2 linked regions of the Homo sapiens genome follow. The protein of the gene in region 1 interacts with the protein of each later gene in a biochemical or structural test. Each region holds a gene or a part of one and is shown in the gene's direction. Other genes may lie near its edges.

What was found. The genes of interacting proteins can lie anywhere in the genome.
Region 2: the proteins of CRP (region 1) and CFH form a complex in vitro, tested with the Homo sapiens proteins (12 studies listed by BioGRID and IntAct, with this or other methods).

What each region holds. Positions count from the first base shown.
Region 1 is NC_000001.11:159,711,766-159,719,406, reverse strand, and holds CRP (C-reactive protein isoform 1 precursor), read left to right. Parts: upstream 1-4,817; 5' UTR 4,818-4,921; coding exon 4,922-4,982; intron 4,983-5,268; coding exon 5,269-5,882; 3' UTR 5,883-7,118; downstream 7,119-7,641. UniProt on the Homo sapiens protein: Displays several functions associated with host defense: it promotes agglutination, bacterial capsular swelling, phagocytosis and complement fixation through its calcium-dependent binding to phosphorylcholine.
Region 2 is NC_000001.11:196,655,034-196,662,062, forward strand, and holds part of CFH (complement factor H isoform a precursor), read left to right. Parts: intron 1-7,029. UniProt on the Homo sapiens protein: Glycoprotein that plays an essential role in maintaining a well-balanced immune response by modulating complement activation.

The sequences.
Region 1 (7,641 bases):
CATGAAACTTACAATCATGGTGGAAGGTGAAGGGGAAGCAGGCATTTTCTTCACAAGGCAGCAGGAGAGAGACAGTGTGAGTGGGGGACTGCCAAGCACTTTTATTTAAATCATCAGACCTAGTGAGAACTCATTATCATGAGCACAGCATGGGCAAAACTACCTCCACGATCCAATCTTCTCCCACCATGTCCCTCCCTCAACTCATGGGGATTACAATTTGAGATGACATTTGGGTGGGAACACAGAACCAAACCATATCATTCCACCTCTGGCTCCTCCAAAATATCATGTTCTTTTCACATTTCAAAACCAATCATACCTTCCCAACAGTCACCCAAACTTAACTCATTTCAGCATTAACTCAAAAGTCCAAGTCTAAAGTTCCATCTGAGAAAAGGCAAGTCACTTCTGCCTATTAGCCTAGTAAAATAAAAAACAAGTTAGTTACTTCCAAGATACAGTGGGGGTATAGGCATTGGGTAAATGGTCCTGTTTGAAATGGGAGAAATTGGCCAAAACAAAGGGGCCACAGGCCCCATGTAAATCCAAAATCTGGCAGGACACTCATGAAATCTTAAAGCTCCAAAATAATCTCCTTTGATTCTTTGTCTCACATCCAGGGCATGCTGATGCAAGCGGTAGGCTTCCATGGCCTTGGGTAGCTCCATACTTGTGGCTCTTCAGGGTACAGCCCCTGTGGCTGCTTTCACAGGCTGGCATTGAACACTTGCAAGCTTTTCTAAGCACAAGGTGCAAACTGTCAGTGGTTCTACCATTCTGGGATCTGGAGGACAGTGGCCCTCTTCTCACAGATCCACTAGGCAGTGCCCCAGTGGGGACTCTGTGTGGAGACTCCAACCCCACATTTCCCTGCTGCATTGCCCTAGTAGAGGTTTTCTGTGAGGGCTCCATGCCTGCAGAAGACTTCTGCCTGAACATCCAGGTGTTTCCATACATCTTCTGAAATCTAGACAGAAACTCCCAAAGCTCAACTCTTGTCTTCTGTGCATCTGCACCCTCAACACTACTTGGAAGCCACCAAGGCTTGGGGCTTGTGCCCTCTGAAGCAATGGCCTGAGCTATATACATTGCCCCCTTTTAGCCATGGCTGGAGCCGCAGCAGCTGGCACACAGGGTGCCATGTTCCTGGGCTGCACAGAGCAGCGGGGCCCTGGGCCTGGCCCATGATACCATTTTTTCCTCCTAGGCTTTTGGACCTCTGATGGGAGGGGCTGCCATGAAGATCTTCTGAAATGACCTGAAGACATTTTCCTCATTGTTTTGGCTATCAACATTCATCTCCTCATTACTTATGCAAATTTCTGCAGCCAGCTTGAATTTTTCCCCAGAAAATGGGTTTTTCTTTTCTACCACATGGTCAGGCTGCACATTTTCCAAACTTTTATGCTCCCTTTCCCTTTTAAACATAAGTTCCAATTTCAGATCATCTCTTTGTGAACACATATGATTGTATGTTTTCAGAAAAAGCCAGGTCACTTCTTGAATGCTTTGGTGCTTAGAAATTTCTTAAGCACCAAAGCATTCAAGAAATCATGTCTCTTAAGTTAAAAGTTCCACAGATCTCTAGGGCATGGGCAAAATGCCACCATTGTCTTTGCTAAAACATAGAAAGAGTGACCTTTACTCCCGTTTCCAATAAGTTCCTCATCTCCATCTAAGGACACCTCTGCATGAACTTCATTTTCCATATCACTATCAGCATTTTGGTCAAAACCATTCAACAAAACTCAGGAAGTTCCAAGCTTTTCCACATCTTCCTGTCTTCTCCTGAGCCCTCCAAACTCTTCCAGCCTCTGCCCCTAGTTGGTTCCAAAGTTGCTTCCACATTTTTAGGAATCTTTATAGCAGTATCCCACTATCCTGGTACCAATTTTCTGTATTAGTTTGTTTTTACACTGCTATAAAGAGCTACCTGAAACCGGGTAATTTATAAACAAAAGAGGTTCAATTGACTCACAGTTCTGCATGGCTCGGGAGGCCTCAGGAAACTTACAATTATGGCAGAAGGCAAAGGGGAAGCAGGTACCTTCTTCACAAGGTGGCAGGAGAGATAGAGGGTGGGGAGGAACTGCCAAACACTTTTAAACCATCAGATCTTGTGAGAACCCACTCACTAAAATGAGAACAGCATGGGGGAAACCGCTCCTATGATCCACCCACCTCCCACCAGGTCCCTCCCTTGACATGTGGGGATTGCAATTCAAGATGAGATTTGGGTGAGGACACAGAGCCAAACCATATCAGATAGAGAGTGGTGGGACAGAGGACCACTTCTTTTAGGCATAAAGCCTTGAAATTATTTCACTTTTAAACTAGGAGCAAGAATTCAGGAGGAAGTTGGCTGGGCATGATGGCTCATGCCTGTAATCCCAGCACTTTGGGAGGCTGAGGTGGGCAGATCATGAGGTCAGGAGATTGAGACCATTCTGGCTAACATGGTGAAACCCCGTCTCTACTAAAAATACAAAAAATTAGCTGGGTGTGGTGGCGTGTGCCTATAATCCCAGCTACTCAGAAGGCTGAGGCAGGAGAATCACTTGAACCCAGGAGGCAGAGGTTGCAGTGAGCTGAGATTATGTCACTGCACTCCAGCCTGGGCGACAGAGCGAGATTCCATCTCACAAAAAAAAAAAAAAAAGAAAAGAAAAGAAAGAATTCAGGAGGAAGTTATAAACTGTGTTGAATATTGCCAAGAAGCTGGGTAAAATAAGAACAGAAAATTCATTATTAGATTTAATGAGAGAGGTGTTTGTTTATGTTGGCTTCACTAGAGTGGTGAAGGCCAATGGCTGATTTCCATGGATTGAGGAGGGAACAGGAGATGGAAAATAGAGGTTGTCAACCCACGTAAACTTTTCCTTCCTTCCTCCCTCTCTCCCTCCCATCCTTCCTTTTTTCTCTTTTCTTTCTTCTTTCTCTAAAAGATTAAATATATTATAGTATGGTTTTGTGGAAATGATCAAGTAAAGATGAATAAATTAATAATACAGAAGATAGAGAGGATACCTATAGGAGCAAAATTCCTTGCATAGTCGACAGGGTCTGGGATCCACTGAAGAATTGCAAGGGTTGGCCTTAGATGTAACACAGGGAGAGCTCATCCCTTTTAATAGAGGAAGACAGAAAGGCTGGTACATTGGGTTGTAGGAGGATATATAAGGATATCAGTTAGGTGTTAAGAACAGAAAGACTGAGTTAACAGTGATTTAACAAAAGAGGAGAGTATTTCTCCTTTAAGTAAATTTTCAGGTAGGCAGCCTAGAGCTGATGCAGTGGCTCCATACCCAATTATCCAGGCTCCATCTATCTTGTTGCCATGCCAACCTCAACATGCAGCTTACACTTGCTGGCCTGAAAGTGAACTATTCCATCTCCTGCTATCATGACTGAATACTAGTCAAAGGGAAAAAGGGGGAAGTGGGAGGGGAAAGCACATACCTTTCTTAAAGAGCACAACCTAGAGATGGTCCCTATTCTGTTCATATCTCGTTGGCCTTAATTTAATCACATCATCACTGCAAGCTACAGTGGGGGCTGGGAAATTTGGTGTTTGAGGGGATGACCAAGCGCCCAACTGAAAATGTTATTCTTCTCTTATGAGAAGTAGAGAATGGATGTTAGGGAATGGCTAGAAGACTCTACTACAAAGGATACGGTGGTTCTTTTCTGATTGCTTCTAACTTCTCAATGAAAGGTGAGTTCATCAGCTGAATGAAAGAATAAATGAGATTTTGGGGACTTGAGGAGCAAGGAGAAGGAGTATAATAGTCATTTTGAAGAGTGAGTTAAGTAGGGAACTGTAGTAAGATTGACAGACAGTGTGGAGGGATTACTTGAATCTTGTGAATAGAGGAAAGAGTAGAATCAGATTATCCTGACTCCTGCCTGAAGCTTTACATATTCAGAGAAAAATGTTGGAAGAAACTTTGATATAATGCTATGTCTGTGATCAGGCACACATTTTACTGGACTTTTACTGTCAGGGCCGTCATTTAGTGCCAAGATGTCTAGAGAGTTCTTAATAAGTGTACTCAATTGGCTGAGAAAATGTGTCCATGCAAAAAACCAAACACCGCGTGTTCTCACTCATAGATGGGAATTGAACAATGAGAATACTTGGACACAGGAAGGGGAACATCACACTCTGGGGACTGTTGTGGGGTGGGGGGAGGGGGGAGGGATAGCATTAGAAGATATACCTAATGCTAAATGATGAGTTAATGGGTGCAGCACACCAGCATGGCACATGTATACATATGTAACTAACCTGCACATTGTGCACATGTACCCTAAAACTTAAAGTATAATAATAATAAAAAAATGTGTCCATGGCTCTGGGAGGAGCATGTTTGTTTTCCTCATTTCCCAGTCTGTAAATAAGCAAATTGAAAGGGGTTAGTGATAATGTCCATCTCCAGAAGCTGTCAGATTTCCTTTGTCAAACTCTATGATTTGGGCTGAAGTAGGTGTTGGAGAGGCAGCTACCACGTGCACCCAGATGGCCACTCGTTTAATATGTTACCATTTCCCATTATTTTCGCAGGATAGATAGCCAAAGTGGAGCCCTGAGAGATTTCTTCATTTTTCCTGTCATAAAGAATTGGTAATTCAGTAGTCATAGGAGTTTGTAATAAATAACTCACATTGATTTCTCTGTTCTGAAATAATTTTGCTTCCCCTCTTCCCGAAGCTCTGACACCTGCCCCAACAAGCAATGTTGGAAAATTATTTACATAGTGGCGCAAACTCCCTTACTGCTTTGGATATAAATCCAGGCAGGAGGAGGTAGCTCTAAGGCAAGAGATCTAGGACTTCTAGCCCCTGAACTTTCAGCCGAATACATCTTTTCCAAAGGAGTGAATTCAGGCCCTTGTATCACTGGCAGCAGGACGTGACCATGGAGAAGCTGTTGTGTTTCTTGGTCTTGACCAGCCTCTCTCATGCTTTTGGCCAGACAGGTAAGGGCCACCCCAGGCTATGGGAGAGATTTGATCTGAGGTATGGGGGTGGGGTCTAAGACTGCATGAACAGTCTCAAAAAAAAAAAAAAAAGACTGTATGAACAGAACAGTGGAGCATCCTTCATGGTGTGTGTGTGTGTGTGTGTGTGTGTGTGTGTGTGTGTGGTGTGTAACTGGAGAAGGGGTCAGTCTGTTTCTCAATCTTAAATTCTATACGTAAGTGAGGGGATAGATCTGTGTGATCTGAGAAACCTCTCACATTTGCTTGTTTTTCTGGCTCACAGACATGTCGAGGAAGGCTTTTGTGTTTCCCAAAGAGTCGGATACTTCCTATGTATCCCTCAAAGCACCGTTAACGAAGCCTCTCAAAGCCTTCACTGTGTGCCTCCACTTCTACACGGAACTGTCCTCGACCCGTGGGTACAGTATTTTCTCGTATGCCACCAAGAGACAAGACAATGAGATTCTCATATTTTGGTCTAAGGATATAGGATACAGTTTTACAGTGGGTGGGTCTGAAATATTATTCGAGGTTCCTGAAGTCACAGTAGCTCCAGTACACATTTGTACAAGCTGGGAGTCCGCCTCAGGGATCGTGGAGTTCTGGGTAGATGGGAAGCCCAGGGTGAGGAAGAGTCTGAAGAAGGGATACACTGTGGGGGCAGAAGCAAGCATCATCTTGGGGCAGGAGCAGGATTCCTTCGGTGGGAACTTTGAAGGAAGCCAGTCCCTGGTGGGAGACATTGGAAATGTGAACATGTGGGACTTTGTGCTGTCACCAGATGAGATTAACACCATCTATCTTGGCGGGCCCTTCAGTCCTAATGTCCTGAACTGGCGGGCACTGAAGTATGAAGTGCAAGGCGAAGTGTTCACCAAACCCCAGCTGTGGCCCTGAGGCCCAGCTGTGGGTCCTGAAGGTACCTCCCGGTTTTTTACACCGCATGGGCCCCACGTCTCTGTCTCTGGTACCTCCCGCTTTTTTACACTGCATGGTTCCCACGTCTCTGTCTCTGGGCCTTTGTTCCCCTATATGCATTGCAGGCCTGCTCCACCCTCCTCAGCGCCTGAGAATGGAGGTAAAGTGTCTGGTCTGGGAGCTCGTTAACTATGCTGGGAAACGGTCCAAAAGAATCAGAATTTGAGGTGTTTTGTTTTCATTTTTATTTCAAGTTGGACAGATCTTGGAGATAATTTCTTACCTCACATAGATGAGAAAACTAACACCCAGAAAGGAGAAATGATGTTATAAAAAACTCATAAGGCAAGAGCTGAGAAGGAAGCGCTGATCTTCTATTTAATTCCCCACCCATGACCCCCAGAAAGCAGGAGGGCATTGCCCACATTCACAGGGCTCTTCAGTCTCAGAATCAGGACACTGGCCAGGTGTCTGGTTTGGGTCCAGAGTGCTCATCATCATGTCATAGAACTGCTGGGCCCAGGTCTCCTGAAATGGGAAGCCCAGCAATACCACGCAGTCCCTCCACTTTCTCAAAGCACACTGGAAAGGCCATTAGAATTGCCCCAGCAGAGCAGATCTGCTTTTTTTCCAGAGCAAAATGAAGCACTAGGTATAAATATGTTGTTACTGCCAAGAACTTAAATGACTGGTTTTTGTTTGCTTGCAGTGCTTTCTTAATTTTATGGCTCTTCTGGGAAACTCCTCCCCTTTTCCACACGAACCTTGTGGGGCTGTGAATTCTTTCTTCATCCCCGCATTCCCAATATACCCAGGCCACAAGAGTGGACGTGAACCACAGGGTGTCCTGTCAGAGGAGCCCATCTCCCATCTCCCCAGCTCCCTATCTGGAGGATAGTTGGATAGTTACGTGTTCCTAGCAGGACCAACTACAGTCTTCCCAAGGATTGAGTTATGGACTTTGGGAGTGAGACATCTTCTTGCTGCTGGATTTCCAAGCTGAGAGGACGTGAACCTGGGACCACCAGTAGCCATCTTGTTTGCCACATGGAGAGAGACTGTGAGGACAGAAGCCAAACTGGAAGTGGAGGAGCCAAGGGATTGACAAACAACAGAGCCTTGACCACGTGGAGTCTCTGAATCAGCCTTGTCTGGAACCAGATCTACACCTGGACTGCCCAGGTCTATAAGCCAATAAAGCCCCTGTTTACTTGAGTGAGTCCAAGCTGTTTTCTGATAGTTGCTTTAGAAGTTGTGACTAACTTCTCTAATGACCTTTGAAATCAAGTCCCTGTAAGTTTACACTTCCCATTACACAACATATCCATGGCACTTTAACCTGTCCAAGAGTCCCCTGAAGGGATTCCCTCTGACAAGCACAGTCCCTCTTTTGAGATAGCTGGCCATTCATGTAGGGCCAGTTGTGGGGGTTTTAGTACTCTCATTCTATCATTATTCCAATTTGAGGAGCAAAAACTAAAGATCATTGAGATCCATGGATCTGCTGCCAGGTTCAGTGACTGGAATGCACTTGCCCCAGCGGGTTCAAGTTCTTTGTAGAAACAGACCCCTCAAAGATGACAGCAGCTGGCTTCCTCCAGAAGTGTCCTTCAACACTGTCTTTCAGTACTAAGTGACCAGTAGAAGTTACTCCATAAAGACCATAGCCAGGAATGAATTATGGGGCTTCCTGCATATCAAATGGTTACCTAGGGAAGGCATATGGTAAACTAGTTAA
Region 2 (7,029 bases), about 37 Mb from region 1:
TGATATTAATATTACTATAATTTCAACCAATCTGTCATTTACATGGAATGACAAATACACTGAATACATATTTTAGGATAGTTAAATTTAGTATTATTCATAATTTACTTTGAATTATTATCATCTGACAACTTCCCTGAAACAATTTCAGTGGGCGGGGGAGGGTAGAAATGGATGTTGATGAGGATAAGAATAGAACAAAGTGATTCTGGAAGATGGGGTTTTCCCAGGTAGGACAGATCTGCTGGTTGAAGTGCTATAGTGAGTGCTATAAGAGAAGGGGTAGAGAAAATGCCCACAGAAATGGCACGAGCCTGAGACGTCTGCCAAGGCAAGCTTTGCTTATTTTAAATTTAGGCATATCCTGGGAATGCATATGCTACTCTTTTGCCTACATATAATTTAAACTAAAAATGAAATATCTAAGTATTGCTAACTAAAATTATTCTTAGGTAGAAGTAAGTTCCCAAATATAAGTTCAAAAGCAGATTGGTAAATGTTCTTCATGTGTGGCCTTTGGTTTCTAAGATCTGAGCCAGTCTACATTGACCCACTTTTATTTGCTTAATCCTCGATTGTTTATTCTGCAGTCTTTTGCCACTTTTCATTCTTCCCAGTTATGCCTTCTCCTCCTCCCCACACACACCATCCCCCACCTGCCTAGGCCTTTGAGATTCTGCCACCCAATCTATCCCGTGCTCAGTTAACTAACGTGTACTTTACCCATTTCTTCACAAAACCATAGTACATGGAAAGGGGATGATGTAATTGACAAAAAAGTATTGCATTTTAGCTTAAAATTATAAGGAGTCATAAAAAGATAGCTCAGAGGAAATAAAGTAACTGAACATCAAAAAATGAAACAATAAAAAGGAAAGAAAAAACATTTGACAGAACACTTTTATTTCTTCTGACATTTTAACTTAGCCAAGTTTTTCATAAACCTTGTTAACTGGAAATGTAATAGATAGAAAAGTGATTATTCTTCCAGGCCGGGCATGGTGGCTCACACCTGTAATCCCAACACTTTGGGAGGCCCAGGTGGGTGGATCACCATGTCAGGAGTTCGAGACCAGCCTGACCAAAATGGTGAAACCCCATCTCTACTAAAAATACAAAAATTAGCCAGGCGTGGTGGCGCGTGCCTGTAATCTCAGCTACTCAGGAGGCTGAGGCAGGAGAATTGCTTGAATCAGGGAGGCGGAGGTTGCAGTGAGCTGAGATCATGCCATTGCCCTTCAGCTTGGGCGACAGAGGGAGATTCCATCTCAAAAAGAAAAAAAAAAAAAAGAAAGAAAGAAAGAAAGAAAAGGAAAAAGCAATATTCTTTCAGAAACTCCTGAACTGTAACATAAATTTAAGCTTAGGACACATAGGTCAGATGTACAATGGAATTACAAATGTTAGAGTTTCCTGGGTTCTTGCAACAGAGTTTTAAGTGCACTAAACAGTTATCACCTTGTCTTCTCTTATATTTTCTAGTCACTACTGTCTACTACGCTTTTTCCACAGGCTGTCCATAATCTACAGATATAATGGAAAGGCTTCCAGATAGTTTCATTGTTACTCATCTGTTCTTTCGCTCATTCATTTTTCCATCACTTTAACTTCCACAAGTACTACTTAGTAATACTTGGTACAATGTGTGTTGCGTTTTTTTTTTTTTTTCTCTATTTTCAGGGTCCTAATTGTACTGTCTCTTTGTGGCTGAGTTCGTTTTTTGTGACTGGAACAATAACTGGCATTAGAAATTAGCTATTCAAATACACATTTCAAGAAAGTTGTGGAATTTCAACCCATGTTCTGATAGTATCTTGTTTTATCTCTAATTATGACATACTTGTTATTCTATCCAACTTCATGTGACTATCGTCTATTCTCCTATCTGCTTTTTATGGTTCTGGAATTTTCTTCTTGCTCTTTTCACTGTTAAGTTGTTTGTTTGTTTGTTTGTTTGTTTTGAGACAGGATCTCGCTTTGTTGCCTGAGGCTGGAGTGCCCACGCTGGAGTGCAGTGGTGCGATCATAGTTCACTGCAGCTTCCAACACCTGGGCTCAAGCAATCCTCCTGCCTCAGCCTCCCACACCTAGCTAAATTTTTTTCTTTTCTTTTTTCTTTTTCTTTCTCAAATGCCTATTAAGTGTGACATAATCTCTATTCTGCTTTGTCTCTAGAGTTTGTTTCTTTAAACAATTCTTTACTCTGTTTACAAAGGTATATATGTTACTTCTGAAATGATCTTTATTCTCATGTTATTTATAAAATAATTTGAATATTTCTTATTTTGAAAAGCTAATTAGATCATATCGTATATATGCATATAGAATTGACCCTTGACCAATATGTGCTTGAACTTCAGGGGTCTGCTTACTATGTGAATTTGTTTCAACTAAACCTGGGTCAAAAATACAGTATTGGTGGGTTGCAAAACTTAAGCATAGGAAAAACTGACTTTTCGTACATGCGGTTTCCAGAGAGCCAAATGTAGAATTTAAGTATGTGCAGATTTTGGCCTGTGTGGGAGTCCTGGAATATATATCCCCTGTGTATACCAAAGCCAAAGGATTATTGAATAAATAGTATTACTATAGATCAGTGAGAAGATAAGAAAGAAATTTAATGCAAAATACCTATTTTTGCTATTTCTGTTTTGTTCATTTGCTTTATTTTTTTCCAAATTGATTTTGTAACTTTGCTTTATAATATATTCTGATACCTACTAAGTTTAGAAGTAGGCTATTTAAAAAATAATATCTACTGTTTTTTATGCACAAAATAATTTTAGAAAAATAGAATAATTGAACAAAGAGACCAACTTTAGTCTACCAAAACAATCTAGCACAAATTTGATTAAGGATTTCCCAAATATATAATTTTATCATGATTTATTTCATTTGAATAAAAACACTTTTCAACTAACAGTTAAAAGATATATTGACATTGAAAATAAGTAATTAGTTCTATGTTTGTATGTCAATAATAAGTAATTAGCTTGGTGTTTGTATGTCAATAATGCCCCCTTAAAATTTGAAAGTGAAAAAATTAGGTAAATTAAGATTATTAAAATATTAAGTAATATTGATTTTTAGCTTTGACCAAAATTATATAACTATTTTCCTCAAATTATAGTAAAAACATTCCTACTCTTTACCAGTAGTTAAACGTATTCACACTCTTAATTCATGGGCTAAAAAAAAACTTGATTTTGTTTAGTATTATTCTTACTTTTTTGAGACAGGGAATCACTTTGTCACCCAGGCTGCAGCGTACTGGTGCAATCATGGCTCACTGCAGCCTCGACCTCCTGGGCTCAAGCAGTCCTCCCACCTAAGCATCCCAAGTAGCAGGGATTACAGCCACCTTGCTCAGGTAATTTTTTTTTTTTTTTTTTTTTTGAGATGGAGTCTTGCTCTGTCGCCCAGGCTGGAGTGCAGTGTCGCTATCTCGGCTCACTGCAAGCTCCGCCTCCCGGGTTCACGCCATTCTCCTGCCTCAGCCTCCCGAGTAGCTGGGACTACAGGCACCCACCACCAAGCCCGGCTATTTTTTTGTATTTGTAGTAGAGACGGAGTTTCACCGTGTTAGTGTTAGTCAGGATGGTCTGGATCTCCTGACCTCGTGATCTGGTGATCTGCCGGCCTTGGCCTCCCAAAGTGCTGGGATTACAGGCATGAGCCACCGCGCCCGGCCTGCTCAGGTAATTTTTAAAATTTTTTGTAGAGACAGGGTTTCACCACGTTGCCCAGGCTGGTCTTGAACTCCTGGGGTCTATTGATCCTCTTGACTTGGCATGTCAAAGTGCTGGGATTATAAGCATGACCCACTGCATCCAGACTAAAACTAATTTTAAATTGTAAAATAAAGCCAAATGAATTAAAGCTTCACCAATGTAGTGTTTTGTAAACAAAATTAACTGGCAATTAAATGACTTGTAAACGTAAGATGAAGTATTCATTGTTTAAACTCAAATACTTAGATATGATGGCTTAGTCTACTCATTAATCTAGAATGAGAAAAATGAGATGGCTATTTCTTTTAGTTTTAAGATAAATCACATCTCAAAAAAATGTTTCTGTGCCTTTCAATTTGTATGCATCCTATTTAATAAGCCCGTTGTACATACATGCTGAGAGTTTGACTACTTGGGCCAAAATAACCGTTTGTTGTCTACTTGAAGGTGGTTCAACTGAGCTTGAACATTCGATTGTTAGTCAATTCAGGCAAATAAAAGTTATGTCACAAGATATACCTAATTATTATTAGAACTCAGTGCAGTGAATCATTACCTTAAATACTTTTGCTATGGCATGAGTTGATAATGATGTAGGACAGCAAGCCCCCAAATTGGGTCTTAGCCTGGGAAGGTTCTTGGTTTTGTCCAGTAAAGAATTCAAGGGTGAGCCTGTGGTGTTAAACAGCAATTTTTGTTGAAGTGGCAGTGTATAGCAGCCTCAGAGGCACCTCTCCTTGCTAAGCAGGGCTACCCATAGGCAGTGTGCCCACAGTAGCAGCTCAGAGGCAGTTCTGCACTCATATTTATATGCACTTTTAATTATATGGAAATTAAGAGGTAGTTAATGCTGAAATTGCCAGGAGGAGGATGGTAACTTCCGGTTGTTGGGTCATTGCTGTGGAAAGGGCCTGTAACTTCTGGGTGTTGCCATGGTAATGGTAAACTGTCATAGCACACTGGTCTGTGTGTCTTACAGGGAGGGGCTTCCACTCAGACCTGTTTTGGATAATCCTCAATTTGGTCCAGTGTCCAAGTCCCATCTCCTATCTCAATAATACTCAATACAATAATGGTTAGAACAAAAGCAGACAGGAAAGTGTATCTGAAGTGAGAAGACCTAGACATTAATGAAAATTCTTCCACGAACTATGAAAAACATTGTTCTTCAATTGTGGGGAGCTTACATTTTGATGTGGGGAGATAGATAGAAAACCTAATGAACAAAAATAGTTATAGCATTGTGAAAAATTTTGTGAAGGAGGTAAAGTAGGGCCTAAGAGAAAATAGAGATGGGGATGGTAGTATGTAGAGACATTAGGTGGGCTTGGTCTTGGGGACTAGAATGAGTGGATCACTTTGAGGACAGAACATTTGAGTAGAGGCCTGAAAGATGAGACAAAGCCAGTCATCAGAAATCTGTCGTAAAATTATTCTAAGAGGAGGAAATAACCCGTGTAAAGGATCTAAGGAAAAAATAAGTTTGAAATGCTCAACAAAATATAAACAAATAAATCAGCGTGACTTTGCACAGTAAATACATGGGAGATTTAACATGATGAGATCCGAGAAAGTGGCAAGAGCCAGATAAGGGGTTCCCAAACCAAGGAAAGGAGTTAGCAATGCTGGATAAGTAAAAAGTGAAGTCATAGAAGAATTTTAATCACAGGAATGACATGACCAGATTTGCAAGAATCACTTGTCACTCTGTGAATAGACTGAAGTAACAGGAGAGTAGAGGACTGGAGGCTAGTTAGCAGGCAAGTTTCATGACCAAAGTGACAGATGATGATCTGAACTAAGATTTTGAAGATGGTAGTAGGAGCAAGGGAAAATAGAACAGGGGCGGTCATATCTTTTTCTTACAAGCAGAATCAAAAGATGCCATTTAACACTGATGGAAAAAGCACCAGAATTTTAAGTACTATTTGAAGAGAAAAGGTAATCAATATGATAATTCTTTATATATAGTAAACATATTCACAGAGTAAATATTGTGAGAAGTTGGTAGGAAGATTTTGTGGAAGAGATGTATCCTTGTTTTCTACATCTGGTTGTTAAAAGCAATGAACTATATTTGGAAATCAAGAATTAGGGGCACAAACGTATCACCTGGAAATATAATAATAACCAGAAGGGAAAGCATTTACTTCTCACTAGGAAGTGAGCGGGCTAAACTTTTTTTGTGTTAATGGATTACTTTACTTATTTATTTTTTCCAATAACCTGAACATCATCAAATGGATCTAAATTTTGAAAGTGAAAAACAAACATATCAGCTTGTAATTAATCAGTTTTCCTTTTGTGCGGAAGGGGCCGGGGATTGTGTTGTTATGATAGAGTATTAGCACCATCTAGTGGAGTAGAATATGTTTACTTAAATTATAAACATCGAAATAGTGCAATGTGGAATCACATATTATATGAGTTCACTAATACAAATTTGCAAAAAGGTCAAGGGAAAATTAGTGCCCATAAAAACTTTCACATTATTTTGTAAAATATAATTTTATATGGTGTTTTCTTTCTTATGAAATATTGCAAAATGTTTTCATATGGATTTGTTCCACCATGTTAATGGGCACTTCTAAAACTTTTTTCTTTGGGCTGCTACAACAAAATATTATTAACTGCCTAGCTTATAAACAACAGGAATGTATTTCTTACACTTCTGAATGCTAGAAAGTCTAACAGCAAGATAGTACCAGCAGATTCAGTGTTTGGTGAGGTCTGCTCTCTGGTTCATAGACAGTGCCTTTTGGCTGTGTCCTCCAATGATGAAAGGGACAAGGCAGCTCTGTGGTGCCTCTTCTATAAAGGCACACATCCCAAATCATGACAGCTCCACCTTCACGACCTAATCACTTCCCAGTGTCCCCACCTCCTAATACTATCACATTGGTAATTAGGTTTAAACATATAAATTGGGGGTTGTGGGGAGGTTGCATGTATTCAGAGCATAGCATATGCCTTCTTAACTTACTAAAGTCTAATAATAATTTATCACTCAGGATTCAATGCGGGAAGCTTAAGTAGAAGTAGAAGATTACCTATCTATCAGTCAATTAATTGATTGACATACCAATCTCCTATCTACCTACTTAAAAAGAGGTTTTGTTTTGTTTGTTTTGTTTTGTTTTGTTTTTTAAATAAATTGCCTCAAGGAATTGTGAGCATGAGATAAGCAAGTCTGAAATCCACAGGGCAGGTAGTCAGAAAAGGAAGATTACAGACAGGATGGAACTCACAGGAAAGGAAGCTGCTTTCCACAGAATTCCCTCTCTTTTTCAGAGGAGCC